Linked DNA regions of Homo sapiens: region 1 is linked to region 2. Evidence: fine-mapped expression QTL. A gene starts in region 2. The other region holds a variant in brackets. All regions are shown on one strand. Distances are between the middles of the regions.

The links. PIP is the estimated chance that this variant, and not a neighbour inherited with it, causes the effect. A credible set is the group of variants that fine-mapping cannot tell apart.
Region 1: its variant is the best candidate, but not a certain one, in a credible set for the expression of MACROH2A1 in whole blood (TOPMed, PIP 0.59).

What each region holds. Positions count from the first base shown.
Region 1 is chr5:135,432,612-135,435,515 of GRCh38, reverse strand. No RefSeq gene overlaps it. Among named protein-coding and RNA genes, the nearest start is that of DCANP1, 13 kb to the left of the region's middle. RefSeq lists an enhancer at 1-1,607. The variant C/A (reference allele first, on the strand shown) is at 1,379.
Region 2 is chr5:135,397,517-135,400,420 of GRCh38, reverse strand. MACROH2A1 (macroH2A.1 histone) reads left to right here and starts at 1,190. Exons shown (of 9, transcript NM_138610.3): 1 at 1,190-1,359. RefSeq lists enhancers at 1-438, 439-944 and silencers at 845-1,304, 1,315-1,484, 1,795-1,854.

The sequences.
Region 1 (2,904 bases), 35 kb before region 2:
CCCATGGGCTCATGCAGGCATCTCAGCCCCTGGTTGTGCCCCTGGGTGAGGTGCACGGGGCTAATCAGAAACACCTGTGTACATGGAATTTCCTGCCCCAGTTCAGCCTTCATTTCCTCTGCCAGTAAAAACCCAAGACGTGCAAAGGTGAAAGAAACCAGCCAGTCAATCACCCAGACGACGGCCACCAGGGCCGCAGAGACAGGACTTTCTAAATTAAATTTTAATTCCCACCCGATGGCCCAGCTGAGACAGCCATGATTCAAACCTTGCAACGGGCTGCCTTGGCCAGGCAGACCTTCACCCAGGTCCTTGCAGGAATTAACCCCACCCCCTGGCCAGCGGACGGTGCTGTCTGCCTTGGCCATCGGGTTGTAGAATGAGACCCCAAGAATGAAAGGGACCCCCTTTCCCTTCAACTTCATTGTGCAGCTGCAAGAGTTGCCCAGCTGATTAGCTGCTCACTACTTCAGACTGAATTATTAGGTGCTGGAGAGATCAGAGCCCGCCAGTGACTCGGGGACATTTAGCAAGACAACATCAAAGGCAGGGGCTGCCCGGGTCCAAAGTGTAGGATAACGGTTAGAGCCCGAGGGTCTGGGCTCTGTCCTGGCGCAGCGGGTTTAGGTGAGGAGAGAGTCGTAAAAATGCCTCCGTTTTTCCAGAACATTTTTCCAGAGATTCCTGCAGGCTCGGGGAGGAGGGGCTTGGCGTGAGAAGAAGAGAAGTATTGAGCTGCCCACTTTATGGTCAAACAAACTGCAGCATCTTCTGGGAGAATGACTTGCCTGACCACACAGCTGGCTGGGAGCAGCTCGCCAGGCTGAGCCCATCACCGGAGACTGAGTCACGACCCCCATCTCCCAACCTCAGCCAGACATGGGAGGGACAGGGAGGTGGCCTTTAGAGGCAAATATCCAGGGGTAAGAACTCGGGCTTGGGAGTCATGGAGTCCTGGACACGAAGCCCAGCTTGTGCCCTTCTGCAGGCTGACTTTCCCCAGTCTCAGCCTCATGGTCCACAAAATGGAAAATAACTGTAGCCCCCCCTAGCCCTAACCCTCATAGGATTGCTGCAACGAGAACAAGGGCAGAGGGTGCTTTACGCTGAGGAATGTGATGAGCCAGGGCCAGATGGGGCGACCTTTGAGAGAGAGCTTCTGCTTCTCTGCCTGTGGCCTATCAGCGACAGTCACCACGGGAGCAGGAAGAGATGGCCCTCCCTTCAGGAGGATCTGAACCCCTGCTGGACACCACTTCCTGTCAGCCTTATGTCCGGCACCACCATGGTGAGACACATATGTCCCCCTCTCCATTCTATCTGATTGGCCTCCTTGTCAAGGGGCCCAAATGCATATCACTGGCGATGGTGGGCGAGC[C/A]GGCAGGGTCAGGAGTACTGGCACAAATCCTCCTTAGTTTTGCAGAAGCAACTGCACAAGAGAATGTTTGGGATCTTCAGGGCAGCAGATGGGGCTGGAGGCCATGGGCCGACTTCCCAGCAGAAGGACTGTGTAGCGCTCCCCAGGAAGCAAAAAGTGTCCCAGGGTTTCAAATCTGCCTTCTTTTAAAAATAGCTTTATGATTTTTAAATGATCCATACCCGTGCTCTACTGCAACTACATACAGTAACAACATTGCTCAACAATGTTGAGCAAAGCCAGCCAGACACAAATGAGTTCACACTGTGTGATTCCATTTATATGAAGCTTAAAAATAGGCAAACAGAATCTCTGGAGTTTAAATCAGGAAATGGGTCAGCCCTGGGGGGTGGTGACTGGAAGTTGACACTGGAGGTAAGAGCGCCTGTGATGTTCCCTGATCTTGGTGCTGGCTACATGGGTATGACCACGTAGTGAAATCCCCTGAGCCACACACTTATGACTTGTGCACTTTTCTGTATGTCTGTTATATCCAATAATAAATTTCCTTAAAATAAATGGTCAGGCTCATAGCAACATTGTATGTACAAATAAATAAATATGAAACATTGGGCCAGGCACAGTGGCTCACGCCTGTAATTGCAGAGCTTTGGGAGGCTGACACAGGAGGCTTGCTTGAGGCCAGAAGTTCAAGACCCGCCTGGTTTTAAAAATTGCAACAACAAAAAAAATGCATAAAATAAATATAAAACATTGATCCTTATTGAAAAAATGTTTTTTACAATAGAAAATTGGAAACATGTCATTTATCCTACCATCCAGCTTAATTCTTATAATGTTTTATTATATTTCCTTCCCACCTCTTTCCATGTACTGTGTATGTATATTTGGTACTTTTAGTATTATTCTTATATGTAAAATTATAGATCTAACTTTTTTCTTTGTGTCATATTGTGAAGATTTTTGTACACATCTTTAATGACTTCTAAAAACTATCCTGATGAGTATACTATGCCACCACATGGACACATCATGCTTTAACTTAGTGGTTCTCAACCGGAGTGGATTTTGCCTCTCCCCAGAGGACATTTCACAATGTCTGGCTTGGGGAGAGGATACTACCAGTATCCAGCAGGTAGAGGCCAGGGAAGGTCTGTGTCTTGTTCACTTCCATTTCCCAGGGGGCTGGTCCAGACCTGGCACCTGGTCGGGGTTCAGTAAAAATCAGTAGGATGAAAGTGACCCTTCCTCTTTCCTCCCTTGCTTGTGAAGATGACCTGTACTTACATTTGAGTTTCTAGGCCAGGCTCTTTTCTGTCTTTTTCCCTGGATGGGACATATTAGAATAGTTTTTGAAAATGTGTCTAAGGGACTCAGGGTGAAAGTGCAAACCAATCTCAAAGAATACCTGAGTTGCCAGGCAGCAAGAAGACACTGGCACACATTCTCAAAGATGAGCCCAGAAGATATTTCATAATTGCCCAAGACAGTCTCATTACTTTAGTCTAGTAATTATTACTAGACAT
Region 2 (2,904 bases):
CAAACTACAGGAGGGCAGAGATTTCTGCCTGTTCTCTTGGCTGTTTCATATCCAGCACCCAAATCGATGTATGACACAAAATACGTTCTCAGTACTTAATCGAATTAACGAATGCATGAATGGCAGGTATTGGACATTGTTTTGCAAACTCTTAAAGTAAGGTGTAAAGCATCCCGGTGAGGTGGAGGTTACTGCCGCTGCGATTCCCGCGCAGCCTGAGGACTGGGGGGTGGGGGTGGGGGTCTCTAATTACCTCCATAATCCCCAGTAGCGGCACTTTAAACTTCACATCAACCCTGAGGGATGTGTATTATTATCCAAATTTAGTTCACAGCTGGATGGAGAAGTGGCTTCCGGCTCCACACTTTGGAGGGAGGGGAGTAGAGGGCAGGCCCCCATTTAAGTACCCGGGATGGGGCACCAATGCCTTCAGGCGGTAAACCAATTTAGGAAGACGTGGCGGGCTTTGTGGCGGCTCCTCCTCTTTCGGCCTGTCCGCAGTTTTTAAAAAACGTGTGTGATGATAAGGAATCACTGTCTACATTAGTAATTCCCAACTTGGGTCCGAAAGTGAACTTTTGCTGAAGCGAAGTAGCTAACCGCTTCCATGTGCAAGGCAGGTTCCAGACTTCGGGGTGAGGAGGATTAACTGAAGGACCCCAGGGGAACCGGGTGCGCAGTAATTGATCTTGGGGCAGACCAGGGCTTGGCGGTGGCCTGTATCTAAAGACAGCGGGGTCTCTGAGGCGGGGCAGGGGGGAGTTGGCATTGACTGGGGAGGGAAGAGCGATCGCTGGTAACAGCCATTGTGCCTTCCCACTGGGTTAGTGGGAAGGTTCCTAAAGATGCCGTGGCAGCGACAGTCCCGTGCTCAGAGCCAGGCACACAGTAGGCGTTCACTCGAGACGCAGAGTCTGGGACGCGCCCTGAAGAAGCTCCTCTCCAGGGGCCTGGCCCTTCCCAAGGACTGGGCTCTGGGCGTCCCCGGGGTCATGGGTCAGACCTCGCGTCCGGGGTGCGGGCTGGTGCCTGGGCGCAGAGCGGCCGGCGTCAACGGGTAGGGCGCGGGCCCGGGGTCAAGGCCGGGGCGCCGGGCGGCACGGGCGCGGAGGCCGGACGCTCGGGGCCGCGAAGGGATGTGACGAGCGGCGCGCTGTGCATTGTGGGAAGCCGGCCGCGAGGACTGGTTCCAGTTCACTCGGCAGCGGCGCCGGGCGGAGGGGGAGAGCGCGGGCCGCGCGGGCGGGAAGCGAAGAGGCGGGCGGGCCAGCGAGGAGCGCGGAGAGAAAAGGCGCGAGCGGCCAGGAGGGCTCAGGCCGAGACACCTTGCAGCTGCCGCCGCCGCCACCGAGCCGCCGCGTAAGTGCCGCGCGGGCCCCCTTGCCGCACTCCCTGTCCCCGCCGCTCGGGTCCGGCCGCGGGTGCCCGGGAGCGGCCCGGCCTGGCGCGCACCGGTGTGGTGCGGGCCGGGCTCGGGCCGCCGGGTTCGGTGTGGCCCACGCCGGGTCCTCGCGCGTGCACTACGTCCTCCCAGGCCTTGTCGGGCCGCGCGGGATTCCCTTTGGTTTTGTTCAAAAAAGAAACCTGGAAACCAACTTCTCTTCGAAACGCATCCCCCTGCCCGCGCCTGGGCGCTTTTGTGGGAAAAAAGCGGTGCTGGCGCCTACCCTGGCGACCCTTCCTGGGGCGGGCTCACGGGCCAGGCCCGAGGCCGCAGGAGGCCCCGCGGCGCTGGCTAGGCAGTCTGGGCCTGGGCACCCGGGAGCTGCTGTGAGCAGAGTTGTACTTGGTGAGGCCCCCGCCGGCCCGCGAGTTGCCGGCCCCGGCACAATAAGTCGGGCCCGAGCCCCGGGGGGCCGAGGTGTAGGCGTCTGGCTCGCTATCTGCAGGGAGGGGAAGGCGGGGGCTACTCGCGGGATTGAAGCCGGGCTGGTGCGGGGGACCGGGTTGGGGAGTGGTCCAAGGATGGGCTGGAGAGGGGCCACGGGAACCCCCGCTGCTCCCGATTGTCTCGGTATCAGCCTTTTGTTTGCTTTGTGGTAGGAAGGGTTTGCTTTTTTTAAAAGGTAACTCCGGAAGGCTGTAGGCTTCCCCGGGTGGAGAAGGCCAGCAGGAAAGAGCCTCGCTGGGGGTGGGGTGGAGTGGGGAGGTGAGTGTGCAGGATGCTGCTGGCAGTGTCACCTGACAACAGGTGTGCGACATGGCGCTCCCTACCCCCACTCCTGCAGGGGCCACAGATCACTCAAGGAGTTGGTCAGTACATTGCTTGAAAGGTTCTTTTAGACAAGATGTTAGGGGAAATGTTTCTGAGTTTCAAAGTGAGAGACTTCTGTACAAACAACTGGGACAAACCTTGAATTCAACAATTACAATGACTATAAAGGCCTTGTAAGATTTTAATGACCCAGTAAACAGCACATAAGAATAGACAATTAGAGGGGGCACTCCTGCTAGCTTCCCTCTTTTCTTCCACCTTTGTGGTTTGAGGTTTTACCGTTAAAGTAGGGGGTAAGGGAAGTGTTTTGTTCCAAAGCTCCCTGCTCCAGGGAGTCGGGCATTTTTTAACAGTCTTAGGTTTGAATGGGAGACTCGAGTTGTAAATTAGGTGGAATTCACCTACTGCAGGCCACCTTTAGGCTACTAGCCTGTTGTCAGAGGTGTTAACTCTGAAATGGACACCTCTTGCCTGCAACTGGAATTAATACCCATTGTACACATTTAACTAGAGTTGGGCAGCAGCATCTCAGTCTTGCACAAGAGACTCTCTGATGAGGATGAGTATGTTTTCAAACTTATTTTTTCTTAAACACAACAAAACTCTTGAAAGACTTCAAATTCTTCCCCCTTCTAGTTTTACAAGGAGAGAGAAATCTTTCCAGTCTGTTCTTTGGCTTCGATCTGTCA